Linked DNA regions of Homo sapiens: region 2 is linked to region 1. A link means that fine-mapping ties the variant in region 1 to the expression of a gene that starts in the linked region. Tissue or cell type: pancreas. Region 1 holds a variant in brackets; the other region holds the start of a gene. All regions are shown on one strand. Distances are between the middles of the regions.

Evidence for each region. PIP is the estimated chance that this variant, and not a neighbour inherited with it, causes the effect.
Region 2: it holds the start of IGHMBP2, and the variant in region 1 is fine-mapped to the expression of IGHMBP2 in pancreas (GTEx, PIP above 0.99). The same link has a PIP of 0.9 or more in ileum.

Annotation. Positions count from the first base shown.
Region 1 is chr11:68,972,261-68,980,361 of GRCh38, forward strand. MRGPRD (MAS related GPR family member D) reads right to left here. Exons shown (of 1, transcript NM_198923.2): 1 at 7,761-8,101. The coding sequence ends at 7,761. Among named protein-coding and RNA genes, the nearest start is that of MRGPRD, 4.7 kb to the right of the region's middle. RefSeq lists an enhancer at 7,706-8,101. The variant C/A (reference allele first, on the strand shown) is at 3,426.
Region 2 is chr11:68,899,511-68,907,611 of GRCh38, forward strand. It overlaps IGHMBP2 (immunoglobulin mu DNA binding protein 2), which reads left to right and starts at 4,381. Exons shown (of 15, transcript NM_002180.3): 1 at 4,381-4,528; 2 at 6,559-6,728. The coding sequence starts at 4,443. It overlaps MRPL21 (mitochondrial ribosomal protein L21), which reads right to left and starts at 4,322. Exons shown (of 7, transcript NM_181514.2): 1 at 4,213-4,322; 2 at 1,038-1,095. The coding sequence starts at 4,300. RefSeq lists enhancers at 4,195-4,922, 4,354-4,473, 4,804-4,863.

The sequences.
Region 1 (8,101 bases):
CTACTCGGGAGGCTGAGGCAGGAGAATCACTTTAACCCAGGAGGTGGAGGCTGCAGTGAGCCGAGATTGCTCCACTGCACTCCAGCCTGGGCGACAGAGCAAGACTCCATCTCAAAAATAAAAATAAAAATAAAAATAAAAATAAAAAAAAGCAGCAGCAATGACCTGTTGAATGTGCTGGATGGCTTTACTTTAATGCCTCCTCTGAGACACACTTGTGCTGTGCCGCATGCCAAGCATATAGTGGACACCTATTATTGACCCTCTCAGCCTGAGATGGTAGAAGTCTAACTGCCCAATGGGTTCACCTTGCCCATTTAGACAAGAGCCCATTTAGACAGAGCCCATTTATCAAGACGGGAATTGCAATGGAGAAAGAGTAATTCATGCAGAGCTGGCTGTGCAGGAGACTGGAGTTTTAATAATTCTCAAATCAGTCTCTCTGAGCATTTGGGGATCAGAGTTTTTAAAGATCATTTGGTGGGTAGGGGCTTGGGAAGTGGGGAGTGCTGATTGGTCAGGCTGGAGATGGAATCACAGGGGATCAAAGTAAGTTTTTCTTGCCGTCTTTTGTTCCTGGGTGGGATGGCAGAACTGGTTGAACAAGACTACCGGTCTGAGTGGTGTCAACTGGTCCATCGAGTGCAAGGTCTGCAAAATATCTCAAGCACTGATCTTAGGTTTTACAATAGTGATATTATCCTCAGGAGCAATTTGGGGAGGTTCAGACTCTTGGAGCCAGAGACTGCATGACCCCTAAACTGTAATTTCTAATCTTGTAGCTAATTTGTTAGTCCTGCAAAGGCAGACTGGTCCCCAGGCAAGAAGGGGGTCTTTTTGGGAAAGGGCTGTTATCAATTTTGTTTCAGAGTCAAACCATGAACTGAATTCCTTCCCAAAGTTAGTTGGGCCTATGCCCAGGAATGAACAGGACAGCTAAAAGGTTCGAAGCAAGACAGAGTTGGTTAGGTCTGATTTCTTTCACTGTCATAATTTCCACAGTTATAATTTTTGCAAAGGTCGCTTCAATCAGAAGGAGCTGGAGCCAACAGTCAAGGAGCGGCCAGAGGAATTTGATTCCAGGGCTGGTTCTGCCACTTGGCAGCTGTCACTATCTAAGGGAGACAATGTTCCCACCTACCTCAGGGAGTGACCTGAAGGTTAAATCAGACCATGATGTTCTGTCTCATGTGCACGGATGAGGGAGAGGAGGCCTCAGGTCGTGACAACTGGCCAGTGTGCCCCAAAGACTGGACAGAAAGTAAAAGCTCAGACATTCACCTGGGGTCCACAACAGAGACAGGCACATAATAGGGGTCTGAGAAATGTTTATTCAGTGCATGAATAAGTTATGTTAACATCCTGTTAATTTCAGAGCATCAGTTCCTAGACAGTATCACAAATGGCAACATGAAGAGTTAGGGAAAAAGAAAACAGCATGAATTTGCATCGTGGGGCAATGCTTTGGCGTATTGATTGTGCCTTGCTTTTCCTGCAGTCCTTTTCTGCCCCTTTCTTTCCTTTCTTGCAAACAAGGCAGGAGCTGCTCTGGTTGAGACAGTGAGAACTTGCCTATATCACCTCTCCTGGCCCACCAGAGTGCATGGCTGTGTGTCTGGAATTGGTGGGTTCTTGGTCTCACTGACTCCAAGAATGAAGCCGTGGACCCTTGCGGTGAGCGTTACAGCTCTTAAGGTGGTGCGTCTGGAGTTTGTTCCTTCTGATGTTCGGATGTGTTCAGAGTTTCTTCCTTCTGGTGGGTTCGTGGTCTCACTGGCTCAGGAGTGAAGCTGCGGACCTTCGCGGTGAGTGTTACAGCTCTGAAGGCGGCATGTCTGGAGTTGTTCGTTCCTCCCAGTGGGTTCGTGGTCTCACTGGCTTCAGGAGTGAAGCTGCAGACCTTCGCAGTGAGTGTTACAGCTCATAAAGGCAGTGTGGACCCAAAGAGTGAGCAGTAGCAAGATGTATTGCAAAGAGCGAAGGAACAAAGCTTCCACAGTGTGGAAGGGGACCTGAGCGGATTGACACTGCTGGCTCCGGCAGCCTGCTTTTATTCTCCTATCTGGCACCACCCACATCCTGCTGATTGGTAGAGCCAAGTGGTCTGTTTTGACAGGGCACTGATTGGTGCGTTTACAATCCCTGAGCTAGGCCCAGCGAGAAATTGAGCGCAGCACCAGTGGGATAGCACTGCTGGGGGACCCAGTACACCCTCCGCAGCCGCTGGCCTGGGTGCTAAGCCCCTCATTGCCTGGGGCCGGCCAGCTGCTCCGAGTGCGGGGCCCGCCAAGCCCACTCGCACCTGGAACTCCAGCTGGCCCGCAAGCGCCGTGCCCAGCCCCGGTTCTTGCTCGCGCCTCTCCCTCCACACCTCCCTGCAATCTGAGGGAGCCGGCTCCAGCCTTGGCCAGCCCAGAAAGGGGCTCCCACAGTGCAGTGGTGGGCTGAAGGGCTCCTCTAGTGCCGCCAAAGTGGGAGCCCAGGCAGAGGAGGCGCCGAGAGCGAGCGAGGGCTGTGATGACTGCCAGCACGCTGTCACCTCTCAGCTGGACTACATTTCCCAGACTCCTCTGTGGTATGGGTCACATGACTGAACTCCAGCCAGTGGAATGCTTCATGGTAGAGGCCTGCCATGTTTGACCTCTCCTCTTTTCTCCTCCCATCCTCTGGCTGAATGAGAGGCCATGAGGATCTGGCAGAGGGCAGAGCCATAAGGTAGAAGTGAGGTAGGAGGTGGACCACGACTCCAGAGGCAGGGTTTGAACTTTTGGCCAGATTGGAAGACTTTTGGCCAGATTGAAGACAGGGAAGAGGGGAAAGCACCTGACCTTAAGACACACCCACCAGTGCCATGTCAGTTTGCCATTGCCATGGCAACACCTGGAAGTTACCGCCCCTTTTCCATGACCAGGATCTGATAACCTAGAAGTTACCACCTTATTTCTAGAAATTTCTGCATAATCTACCCCTTAACTTGCATATAATTGAAAGTGGGTATAGGCCAGGTGTGGTGGCTCACACTTGTAATCTCAGCACTGTGGGAGGCTGAGACAGGTGGATTGCTTAAGCCCAGGAGTTCAAGATCAGCCTGGGCAACATAGTGAGACCTCCTTTCTATAAAAAATATAAAAATTAGCTGGGCGTGATGGTGTGCAGCTGTAATCCCAGCTACTATGGAGACTTAGTGAGGAGGATACCTGACCTTGGGAGGCAGAAGTTGCAGTGAGTTGAGATTGCACCACTGCACTCCAGCCTGGGCAACAGAGCAAGATCTATCTCAAAAAAAAATTTTTTTTTAAAAAGTGGGTGTAAATATGAGTGCAGCACAGCCTCTGAGCTGCTGATCTGGACACACTGCCTATGGGGTAGTGTGCTTTGCAAGGAGCAGTACCTCTGCCACTTCAATGAAAGTTGCTGTCTTAACA[C/A]CACTGGCTCACCTTTTTTTTTTTTTTTGAGATGGAGTTTTGCTCTTTTTGCCCAGGCTGGAGTGCAGTGCAATGGCCTGATCTCGGCTCACCGCAACCTCCGCCTCCCGGGTTCAAGCGATTCTCCTGCCTCAACCTCCCAAGTAGCTGGGATTACAGGCATGCACTACCATGCCCGGCTAATTTTGCATTTTTCGTAGAGACAGGGTTTCACCATGTTGGTCAGGCTGGTCTCGAACTCCCGACCTTAGGTGATCCACCCGCCTCGGCCTCCCAAAGTGCTGGGATTACAGGCGTGAGCCACCGTGCCCGGCACCACTGGCTCACCTTGAATTCTTTCCTGGGCAAAGCCAAGAACTCTCCTGGCTGAGCCCCAGTTTGGGGGCTCACCTGTCCTACATCATCAGAAGCCTGGGTCTCTGAGTGACAGAGTAGAGCAGAGCCTCCCATCCACCTGCATTGGTCTATGGTATAAGCAAGAAAACTTTCATTATGCTGCACCATGAGATTTGAGAACGCTTTATTACAGCAATTAGCCAGTGGAGGTGATGGAAGTTGCAGATAAATTTGGGACTCTGGGAACAAAAATCAGGTGACCTGATAATGGCTGCCACAGGAAGTAGATAACGACAAGGATGGAGGAGACAATGTCCAGTCCGTGGGAGGCCACGACTGAGAGGCAACTCCTGGGATGGGGAGTGGGGAGCCTGGAGTTGACTGGGCCCTTCCTGAACTGACTGCACCCAAGTCTCTGCCAAGAGTCCTACTGGGGGCTCCAGAGAAAGGAAAGTACCATGATAGAAAATAAAGAACTTGGTACTGTTTGCCTCCTGACGCTGTGGTCTGCAGCATTTATGTATGCTTTGTTCATCTCTATTAAACAAGCAATCTGGAAGCCACCTATTTCCAAACCAAACCAAGCTGTGTTTGTTGGCCTGATCAAGCTGTTCTTGTCAGGAATTCCTTTCTGGAATCACTTTTGATTGTTTAGAACATGTGTTCTTGATCCAGTTTCCTGCGGCAGCCCGCAGGGGCCTCAGGGGGAGTGCAGGGTGAGGTTGATTGTTCCCATTACACAGCTGGGGAAGAAGAGGCCACAGGGGGGAATACCTGGCCTGAGGGAACCCAGAAGGCAGAGGGGAGCCCCCGTCTCCTCACTCCCAGAGCCAGGCCCTGTCCCCATCAGTGAGTGGTGGGAGGACCCTCATCCTCCCTCCGCATCTGGTTCCCACCTGGGACCCCACAGGGCTGAACCTTGGGATGGGATTGGGGAAATCGGGGGCTCAACAAGAAAACTTGTTTCAGCAAAGGATTGAGCTGTCAGACAGTGTGGACTATGCTACTGGAATTTTATGGTTATTCACACGGAAATCTCCAGCGCTCTAGTGTGGCCAGAGGGCTCGCTGCTCCTGGTTGGATCCAGGGTTTATGGAACCTAAAATTTCTACAGGATTTGGGGCCCTTTTTAAGGGGGAAGAAAAGAAGGAAGGAAAGTTACAAATACAAAATTAGGTATGAAAATGAATACTTATTTAGAATGAGAAAGTAAATCAAACATTGTTTTTTAAGCAAGAGCAGGTAACACAAACTTCATAAAATATTAAAAGCCCTATAATATTTTTAATAATTAGCTGCTTAACAAACCTTTCTAATATTTGTCCTACATTTTTGGCTGCATACTGTTGCTTGCCTCTTCATAGATCAATTTTGTACACTTTCTATGGAGAAAAGAGAAAGATAATTGTGTTTTTCCTCATTGATTGGATTTATTTTAAGTGAGTGATAGCTGGATACATAAAACATGCAACTTCACACAGAGACGTTTTTGCCATTTGTATTCCTGCTCCAGCATTTTGGATACAAAAACAGGGTGTCTCATGAATGGTACTTTCACATTTCCCAGGAGAAAAGAGGTATGGTATGTGTTCTGATTACACATGCTGCATTAGCAAGGATCTTGCTAACAGGTGAGACCTGCTCTGAGCAGGCACCCGTGAGAACAGAACCCCCCATTTAGAGTTGTACATCTGGGGATTGGAGGATTCTTCTATAAGCTAGCTTCTGATTCTGTACATTTCAAATCTTATTTCTTCTCTGTTACCCACTCCCCCACATACTTCCTTTATCTGTTCATTTTTTCAGGCAGCTCTTTGCACGATGCCCGGGGAGCTGGCACAGCAGGCAGTGGCAACGTTTCTGGGAGCCATTCCTACCCTGGGGTGCTAGCAATTGCCTAACCACACACAGAAGTGATCGGAAACCACATAAATGCACCTCACTAAGCCCAAACTGCAGGGACCCCCTAACTCCTCTTCCACTCAGCCCCACCCCCCAAATACCTGTGGGCACACCAGTGCCACCTGACCTAAAGTGGAGTGTGATGGAGGTACCGGAGTAGAAGGTCTAACAGATATATCATTTTATATGTTTTATCGAAACATAACATCATTGTGTGAACAATTTCTAGGGCTCCTCCCCTTGCAAATGAGGGGCCCTGTGGTAGCCACTGAGTGCTAAGAAGCGAGATGTTCTTCCTACCAACCGTCGGCTTTAGACTGGGCCACCTCGTGGCTGCCCAGGTTGGAGAAGGGTTGTGAAGCATGGGGTTTGTAGTCAGAAGATATGGGTTGGATCCTGGACAAAACGTGGGCTGTAAAGCACTGTACAGGCATCAGTTACTCTTACTGGCCAAATGAGCACTTGTTAAGTGCATCTGGCATTTGAGGCCAGTGCTGGTACCAAGTGCTCCGCTAAATGCTGGAACGACTGAGAAAGAGCCACCACTCTGCCTCGCATGCTTCTCTGGGACACACAGACCTGGGGGCCTGAGCCCTAGGTGGGAAAGCACTCAGAGGTAATTTCTCCTTCTGGGAGGGCTGCACAGCCCCCAGCCCAGGGCAATGAACAAACAGGGGGAGCCCAGGAAGGGGAGTCCTGTCCAGGGCACAGTCTTCGAGTCCCCAGGACACCATCACCTGCCACGGCACAGAACCGCAGGCTGTGAGAGTTGATTCCAGGGGTGTATTTTATAGCTTACTGATGAGCTGTCCTCTCCTGTCTCAGGATCTGACCTGTGCCCTGGCTGGCTCGAAGGCTCCATCTTTTGGGAGGAGACTGAAAACTGCTTCAGAAAGATGCCAAGAGAAAGAACAAGATCATTTTCACCTTCTGACATGAAAAACAGGATGACGCAGCCAGGTGCCAGGCTTGCAGGCCAGGCTGTGGTCTGGAGACAGGATCTTTCCACTTCCGTCTTTCCTCCTCCCTCACCTCTTTAAGTCCAGGACTGACTCTGCAGGGACCTCCTGTCTTGCACCCCCTCCATGCAAGCCCCGAGCCTCGAGGCTGGATGCTGGGTGGTAGGAAAGGGCTGTGATTTGTGGAAAGTGCAGGAAACATCTGCCTTGTTCTGGACCCAGGGGACTGTGGGAAGGAAAGGGGGAGGGAGGAGAGTGGAGCCAGCTGATGTGTGTCCCAGATGTTCCGTCTTTGGGCTTTTGGGCAAAGTGAGGGGGCCCTGGGAGGGACAGTCAGTGAGGTATGAGACTCTGGCTCTGGGGGACACTGCCTGGAAGGCTGCCCTCCACTGCCTGGGGCACTGTCCTATCAGCATCTGCTGGAGTGACTGCCAGTGAAGCCAGGCAGAGGCTCTTCCCTTCCCAGTGCGGCCTGGAGGAAAGCGAACAGGCCTGCCCTGGGTGCGAGGGGTGACAGGGTAAGGCGACCTCATAGCAAATGCCAGGGGTCAAGGGCTGGCCAGGGGTCAGAGGGATGGTGGGGCAGAGTCTCATGGCCCACAGCCAGCGAGATCCGGGTCGGCGATGGCGACACCGTTTACTTGCCAGACTTCAGGCACACCTGGGGAAAGGTGCACGGGGGCACCACCTTGGTGGCCAGTTGATGCCACCCAAGGACCAGCATAGGGCCAAAGATCACCCGAGGTCACCTGCCTCCTCCACAAAGATGCCGTCTTAGGCAGAGAAGGTGGTTGGGAGAAAGCTTTCATATTCAAATGAGATTCCTGTTATCCACCCATAGATAACCAGCTTAAAGCAGGGTAGGGCTAAAAGCTAATATTTTCCCCCAACCAGATAATCTGCTATAAACAAATAAATTGCATCTTCCAGCGGGGTTGCATTGTGAGATCCAGGACACAGGTGTTGTGGGGAGTTTTGACATGCAGGGAAGTGACCCCCACATGCAGCTGCAAAGTCCTTGGGGCTCCCCCAAGAAGGCGGGCCAGACACTTGGCAGGGACGAGGTGGGAGGCAGCTCACGGCTCGGGAATCTCCAGGGCATGGGCTCGCACAGGTGGGAAGCACCTGTGGGCGGCTCTCAAGCCCCCATCTCATTGGTGCCCACGGTGGGCGTCTCCCCACCTTCCAGCTCGGGCTCCTCGCGAAGCGCCTGTTGGAGCACAGTCCCCAGGGACCTGGTGGGCAGCCTGTGGCTCCTCCGGCTGCCCACCAGGAAGTAGATGACGGGGTTGGCGCTGCTGCTTACGGACGAGGAGAGGCGTGACAAGCTGAAGCACAGGACCTGCATCTCGGGCGGCAGGCTCAACCAGTAGAGCACAAACCAGTAGATGCTCAGAGGCAGGGAACAGATGAGGAACACCAGGACAGAGGCCAGGACCACCACGAACAGCCGTGTGGGCTGCCGCCGCCACTGCTGGG
Region 2 (8,101 bases), 73 kb before region 1:
GTGGTTGGTCAATGACCTTGAGAGACAAGGAGGACAAGGAAGGTGCTGCTCTCTACAAAACGTCTTTGACCTGTTTGATGTCTAGTCTCCCCATACGGGTTCAGCAGTGCCCAGTGTGAGAAGAACACGCTGGCAGGAAGGTGCTAACCTCTCACACAGGACACAGGGGTAGTAGGCACAACCTACCCACATGCTCACTTACAACTTCTTCCTATGCTCAGAATGTTTTGCCGCTTCTTTGAGAAGCAAGAAAGACTCCCACATCTCCCCACTGCAGAGGATCCCTGGAGTCCCAGCAGCAGTTCCAGCAGCCAATGTTTTGTGAGTGCTGACTGTATGCCAGGCACTGTTCTAAGAGCTTTAAATGTATACATTTACTTAATCCTCTCCAACACCCATGCAGATAGAAATGAACATTACTTCCATCTTGCAGAAGCCTGGCGTCCCAGGCTGTGAGGGGCAGCCGGAACTGCACCCCGGGGGGGTCCCTACAGTAACTGCTATCCCTGCACTGCTCCTGTGTCTCCCACCAGTGAGTGGAACTTTGTCGAATGTTTTCTGCAGTTTATGATACCTAAAAATGTTTTCTCAAGTATAAAATTTTAACACTGAATGTGCTTTTTCAAATAATGAGTTTCTCTTAGAGACTCTGATACAAACTTCCTCATCAGAAATCTTGAGTTAAGACTTCAAGCTCCTCCATAATAAAAGAGAGCAAACACATACAGAATTTCTCTTTGGTCTCTTGCAGTTACGTCTTCTTTTAAGGGTCTCAGAAAAATACCGTCAAAAAAGTTAAAGCTGAAAGTGGTGGTGCATGCCTGTAATCCCAGCTACTCAGGAGGCTGAGGCGGGAGGACCACTTTAGGCCAGGAGTTCAAAACCAGTCTGGGAAACATAGTGAAACTCTGTCTCTTAAAAACAAAAGAGGAAATTTAAATATTATTGAGAACCAAAAGGTAGGAAGTTTTGACTTTAGAAAGATGGTTCTACAAATGAAAGGAAAAGAGGCACCAAAACCCACATTTTGATATTACCCTGGTAGATATGAAGTGCTCTGTGAATTGAACCTTCGAGAAGCAGACCAAAGGGAGGCTGAGGGAAGAAGAGAAACACAGATCATTACCATTAATACTACAAATGCAAACTGCCCTTTATGATGCTAAATGCACAGCTGCTGCTCCTGGTACATGGTATGAACCACTGCATGACAGCCTGCCCACAGAAACACCTAGGTGAGCAAAACTACAAGAACGTCACTTACAGCTACTGGTTATATGTGTTGAGATCAGTTAGCCACATCATCTACAAGCGCCTGAGACCAGAACCACCCGTCCACTAACTCATGCCTTGACTAAGTGCCTGGTAGGTTCAGACTCTGATCTGTGCCCAAGCGTGGGAGCAGCCTCCAAGATGGCCCTGCTGGGCCCCGCCTCCTGCTATTCTTACCCCTGTTAGCCCCCTGGGAGTGGCCTGTGTGTCCAACAGCTAGTGACAGACATGCTAGCACGTGGCTTCTGGGATGAGGTGATAACCAACTGGGACTTCCATCTTGGATGCCTGTGCTCACCCTTTCTGATCTCTGGCCTTAGGGCTGCCCTGCTGTGAGCAGCCCTACCTAGAGGTCCACATGGCGGGGAACTAGGCCTATCGCCAACACCCATGGGAACGACCTTGCAGGTAGATTCTCCAGCCGCTGGCGCAGTGGAGTCTTGAGATAACTACAGCCCCTGCAGACTTGCTTGCTGCAAGCTAAGACCCTGAGCCAGAACCAGCCACTTAAGCTGCTTCTGTGTTCCTGGCTCTCAGAACTGGTGTGAGTTAATAAATGTTTTAAGCTGCTAAGTTTTGGGGTAATTTCTGATGTAACCGTAGATAACGCATACACCAGGAATACACCAGGAAACAAAGACATTCAATCTACTGAGAAGACAGGGGATCAAAATAAGTGCTTAGGTGTAAAAAGCAGAGAACAGTTTCTCAATAACCACTTTTAAAGAAACTCAGCTATAATTTACACACCATAAAAACCACCTTTTTAAAGTTCACCCATTAGCACCAGCTCCCCATTTGCATCTCCTCGGCTGCTTTCTCCTCTCCTCTCCCATTTGGGCATCCGGGGCTCAACCCTTGGCCTTGACCTCCTCTCCGCCCATGGCCATTCCTCTGGTGACTGCATCCAGTCCGATGGATTTAAACACCCCCAATGTGCTGGTGACTCCCAAGTTTACACCTCCAGCCAGGGCTTCTCTCCTGGTTTTGCATACCCACCTATCTATCTGCCTTAGCCACTCGTGTCTGACGAGCACCTCACACCTCCAGAGGCTCCTCATTTCTTCCCATGCCTGCTTCTCCCACACTCCTCCCTCTCACATGAGGGCAACTTCATCCTCCCAGTTGCTCAGGCCCCAAACCTCCATCAGTTTTGACTCTTCTCTCGCACACTACTCAGTCAACCCATTGGCAAATCCATCCCACTATTAAAAACTTAGCAGGCTTCTGTACCTAATTTGCTTCTAGCTTTGTTTTTGGGTCCCCAGGGAACAAACAGTCTCCTTCCTCTCCCACAGGATTTCCTTTAGGTAGTCCTAGAGACTGTGACTGTGTACTTCCATCACGTCTCCTTTGCTCACTCTTCAAGGCCCCAGCTGCTCACTGTTTTGGTCACCTTGTCTCTACTCGCTTCACTGTGTGTCTTTCTCTCCTAATGCGTGAGTCTGTACTTGAACATAGCATTGGAGGGGTGGTTTCATGTAGGTAGGTAGAATGGAGTAAGTCCCACTGCTTTTGTAAAAACTTTCCTGCCTACTTAAACCTAAGTTTTATTATGGAAAATGTCAAGCATACAAAAGTAAAGAGAACAGAATAGTGAACTCTCTCAATTATCCCTTTCCAGGTTCAACAGTTACCAACTCATGGCCAATTTTGGCATCTACATTGCCTCTGGCCCAACTCTGTGATTATTATTAATTTCTTAATAGACTTTATTTTTTAGCACAGTTTTAGTTTCACACCAAAATTGAGTGGAAGGTACAGAGAGTTCCCATATGTCCCCTGTCCATGTGCCCACAGCTTCCTATCAACATCCCTCACCAGAGTGGTACAATCTTTACAATTGATGAACCTACATTGACACATCATTGTTATCCAAAGTCCATAGTCTACATTAGGGGTTCACCCTTGGTAGTGTACATTCTATGGATTTGGACAAACTTATAATGACATGTATCTACCATTATATCATACAGAATAGTTTCACTGCCCTAAAAATCCTCTGAGCTCCACCTATTTATCCTTTTCTCCCCCAATCCTCTTACCCCCCATGTAACTTTTTACTGTCTCCTTAGATTTGCCTTTTCCAGAATGTCATAGTGGGAAACATACAAGATGTCCCCTTTTCAGGTTGGCTTCTTTTACTTAGTAACATGTATGTAAGTTTCCTCCATGTCTCTTCATGACTCATTTCTTTTTATTGCTGCATAATATTCTACTGTATGGATGTCCTACAGTTTATGTAACCATTCATCTCCTGAAGGACATCTGGGTTGCTTCCAAGTTTTGGGAATTATGGTACTATTCTTTTAATATCGTCCAATATAGAGTTAGATCCAGTTTTCCATTTTTGGGGGTCATGGTGAGACATGAAACCCAGGTTTAAAACATACATAAACACTCATGCACACAAATACACACTCCAACCATTTTCAAGCAGAGATTTATAGAGTTTTTAACGGACATAACCTTTTTGGAGCCTCGTATCAGCCCAGCGCCTTAAATACGGCTGTTTCTTTTGCAGAATGAGTTCAGATTAGGCGAGGATATCCATCACCATTTTTCAGACCAGCTCGCAGCCTGGGGGCAGTGGTTCAAGCACAGGCTTTGGAGCCGAAATGACTGCGCCTGAAGTACTCTTCTTCCACTTCCCCGCTGTGTGACCCTGGGCACGTTACCTAGCTCCTCTGAGCCTCACTCTTCTCCCCCATAACATAGGGCCTATACCAAAGTTCAAGGGCTATTGTCAGTATTCAGGCTACTAACTGAAGGAATCAAAATCTGAACCTGGGTTCCCCCGACTCCAAAACCCGTGCTATATTCACCACAAATGCGATCAACACACAAGGCACCAGGTCGGACCCAGGCACATACGTGGCGAGACCGCAGGGAGCAGCGCTCGCTCTGCGTCCTCCCTTCCTCCCATATCCCAGGTCTCACCTGCTCCGGGCCCCGAAGGTCTCAGGATGCTGTGGCTGCACGCGGACGCCAGCCGCCCTAAGGTGACCGTCAGGGAAGATGCTGCCATGGCCGCAGCCTCGGCCGGAAACGGAAACGACGCGAACCGCGTGCGTAACGCACGGGCCCGGCGGGGAACACCGGTCCGCTGTAACACCGGCCCGGCGCAGAAGCGGGACGTCGGCTTCTAGGGGCCCAGGCCGGCGGCGGCGATGGCCTCGGCAGCTGTGGAGAGCTTCGTGACCAAGCAACTGGACCTGCTGGAGCTTGAGAGAGACGCGGAGGTGGAGGAGCGCAGGTACGGGAGGCCGCCGGCGCCGCTCCCTCGCGGTCGGTCCCGCCGTGTCCCGGGCAGAGTCTCCGAGGGGCTCGGCCTCATAGTCTGGGGCGGGAATTTCGTCTCCGACCCTTCGAGTCAGGGGCAGGGATCGTCCGTCCCCTGCTTGGCCACCTCCCGAGTTGTCAGTCTCATCACTTCCTGGGCAGCGCGTTCCGTTTGGGGACCCTTAAGAAGCACTTTGATTTCCCGACCCGAGACCCCCCACTAAGCTTACACTCCTGGGCCCTGGCCCCGACCCCAGTTCCACCCGCAGCGAGTTAGCAGCCCTTTCCCTTATTCATTCAGTAAACATGGTTTGCGCCCATTCTCAGTCAGGCCCCGGCAGCATGAGTCAGGTGCACTGGCTGCCCCCGATCCGGCCAGCGGCGGGCTGGGCATAAGCAGAGAGTCCCTTCCCCTCCAGTGCGTCCAGGGCCGGCTGCGTGCGTGTCGCGGGGAAAGAGCCTGGAGGAGGAAGGCCCTTCCCTGGGGAGGGTCATGGTGGCTTCAAGGAGGGAGTGGTGCCTGAAGGAAAATTGGAGTTAAGCTGGTGGGTGCGGAGTAGGGTGGGGAGCCGTCCTGAGAGGTGTGGGGAGCCATGTGAGAGCCGGGCTTGTTTCCGAATGGGACTATTTACTTGTCCAAAACAATCAGAGCTAACACTTACGTACTTTCCATGCGTTAATTCTTTTACACCTCATCCCATGCCAACCCTACAGTGTAAGTTTCTTTTTTTTCTTTTTCTTTTTTTTTTTTTTAGACAGAGTCTCTCTCTGTCGCCCAGGCTGGAGTGCAGTGGCACGATCTCGGCTTACTGCAGCTTCCATCTCCCGGGTTCAAGCGATTCTCCTGCCTCAGCCTCCTGAGTGGCTGGGACTACAGGCGCGCCACCACGTCCTGCTAATTTTTTGTATTTTTAGTAGAGACAGGGTTTCACCATGTTGGCCAGGATGGTCTCGATCTCCTGACCTCGTGGTCTGCCCGCCTTGGCCTCCCAAAGTGTTGGGATTACAGGCGTGAGCCACCGTGCCCGGCCGCAGTGTAGGTTTCTGTTACTGTCATTTTCCGTCTAAGGAGATGGAGACAGAGAGGGGTTAAGTAACTTGCCCCGGGGTGACACAGTGTAGCCCGATTTGCTGTCAGGCAGTCTGCTTCCAGAGTTTGCAGTCAGCCATATGTGGGTAGGATTTGTCTGAGATGCTTTTGATCATGGCAATGGAGAGCTTTTGCAGTTATGTTGAGTTTCTTAGAATCCCAGCTGTTTCATTTATGGCTGTGTGACTTTGCAGGTTCTGTCTCTGAGCCTTACTTACTTCATCTGTAAAACTGGGATGATTCCCACCTCACAGGCTTGCTCTGAGAATGAAACGATCCCCTGTCAGTCAGGTGCTCAGCGTGGTGCCAAGGACAGAGTCAGCCCCCATGGCAGTGGCTCTTTCTGAGGATGCTGAGCAGACTGGCAGGGCGAGCCTGGGAAGGGCCTGGCTAAGGAGCTAGTCTTCTGTTCTGTGTATGAAGGATGGGCCATCAGCGGGGTTAAGCAGGTGAGGGAGGCGAATAGCTTTGCATTTTAGGAGGATTTCTTGGGTCTCCTGCTTTTGATTGGACGTGGAGAGGCCAGAGGTAAGGTAGTTGAGAGGCTCTGTTTAGTCCAGGTGAGCAGTGATGTGGATTTGAACCGGGGCTGTGGCAGCCAGGATGAGAGGCAGAGAAGTCCAGGTAGAAATGGGAGGGGCCTGATAGGACTTAGTGACAGATGGGAGGAGAGAGGGGAATGCTGATTGAAAGATCTGTCTCAGGTAACTGAGAGAAGGGTTGTGGCATTAACTGCCCTAGGGGGATGTAGGAGGAGCGGGATTGGGAGTGGAGCCAATTCGGAGTTCCATTGGGACATATTTAGTGCCTGTGAGTAGATCTTTATCTATGTTTCTTTCTCTTTTACTTTTCCTGGGTGGGTGGAAGTAGAAACTAGTAAAAATCCTGAAGCATCAATACCGGGTGTCTTCCAGGTCCTGGCAGGAGAACATCTCTCTGAAAGAGCTCCAGAGCCGAGGCGTGTGTTTGCTGAAGCTGCAGGTATCCAGCCAGCGCACTGGGCTGTACGGACGGCTGCTGGTCACCTTTGAGCCCAGGCGATACGGGTCCGCGGCAGCTCTTCCCAGTAACAGCTTTACTTCTGGTGTGTGCGTATTGACCTAGACAGACATTGAAATTTACTGGCATTCAGACCGTGACTTGTACCCTCGTAAAGACTGGATTAAAATGACCAGTTGGAGAATAAAGCGTTGCAATGAAGAACTCTTAATCAGAAGTCCAACAATTGATGTGGGTTTTAGTTGTCTAGATCAGCGTTGTCCAAAATGGTAGCCATTAGCCATGCGTGGTCATCAAATGTTTGAAGTGTGGCTTGTAATTGCCGCAGATACAGAATACACACCAAATTTGGAAGATTATGTTAAAAAAACAATTGGGAATATCTTGAGTAATTTTTCTGAATACTGATTACATGTTGAAATAATATTTTTCATATATTGGGTTAAATAAAAAATATCTTATTAAAATAATTTACCCATTTCTTTTCTTTTTTTTTTTTTTTTTTTGAGACAGAGTTTCGCTCTTATTGCCCAGTCTGGAGTGCAGTGGCATGATCTCGGCTCACTGCAACCTCCGCCTCCGGGGTTCAAGTGATTCTCCTGCCTCAGCCTCCCGAGTAGCTGGGATTAGAGGCATGCGCCACCGTGCCTGGCTAATTTTGTATTTTTAGTAGAGACGGGGTTTCTCCATGTTGTTCAGGCTGGTCTCGAACTCCCAACTTCAGGTGATCCGCCTGCTTTGGCCTCCCAAAGTGCTGGGATTACAGGTGTGAGCCAGTGCACCCAGCCTCTTTTAAATTTCTTAATATGGCTACTAGAAAACTTAAAACTACACGTGACTGGGTGCCTGTAATCCTAGCACTTTGGGAGGCCGAGGTGGGTGGATCACTTGATCTCAGGAGTTCGAGACCAGCCTGGGCAACGTGGCAAAACCCCATCTCTGCAAAAAAATAGAAAAATTAGCCAGATGTGGTGGTGTGTGCCTGTAGTTCCTGCTACTTGATGGGCTGAGGCAGGAGGATCGCTTGAACCTGGGAGGTTGAGGCTGCAGTGAGCTGAAATCACGCCACTGCACTCTAGCTTGGGGGCAAAGTGAGACCCTCTCTCAAAACAGACAAAAACAAAAGAAAAACTACATGTGACTCTCTTTATGTTTCTATGTAATGGGCAGCCTTGGTCCAGCTGGTAAACATGCAGGATGTGTACTTCTGTATTCCCAACCCTTTCTTGTGCCAAGCATGCTTTGGCTAAACTTGTGCCAGCCTGGTTGGAAAGGAGGGACAGTTAGAAGAAGCTTCTTAACCACACGCCTGGGATGCTTGTGTTAGACAACCACAGCCTTGGAAGCCTGGAGGAAGCAGCGTTGCCAGGGCTGTACTTTTTACTATGGAAGTGTCTCTGCCTTGTTTTGGTGGTGACGGAGTTTTAAATTTCATATTTTGATTTCGTAGACTTTAGC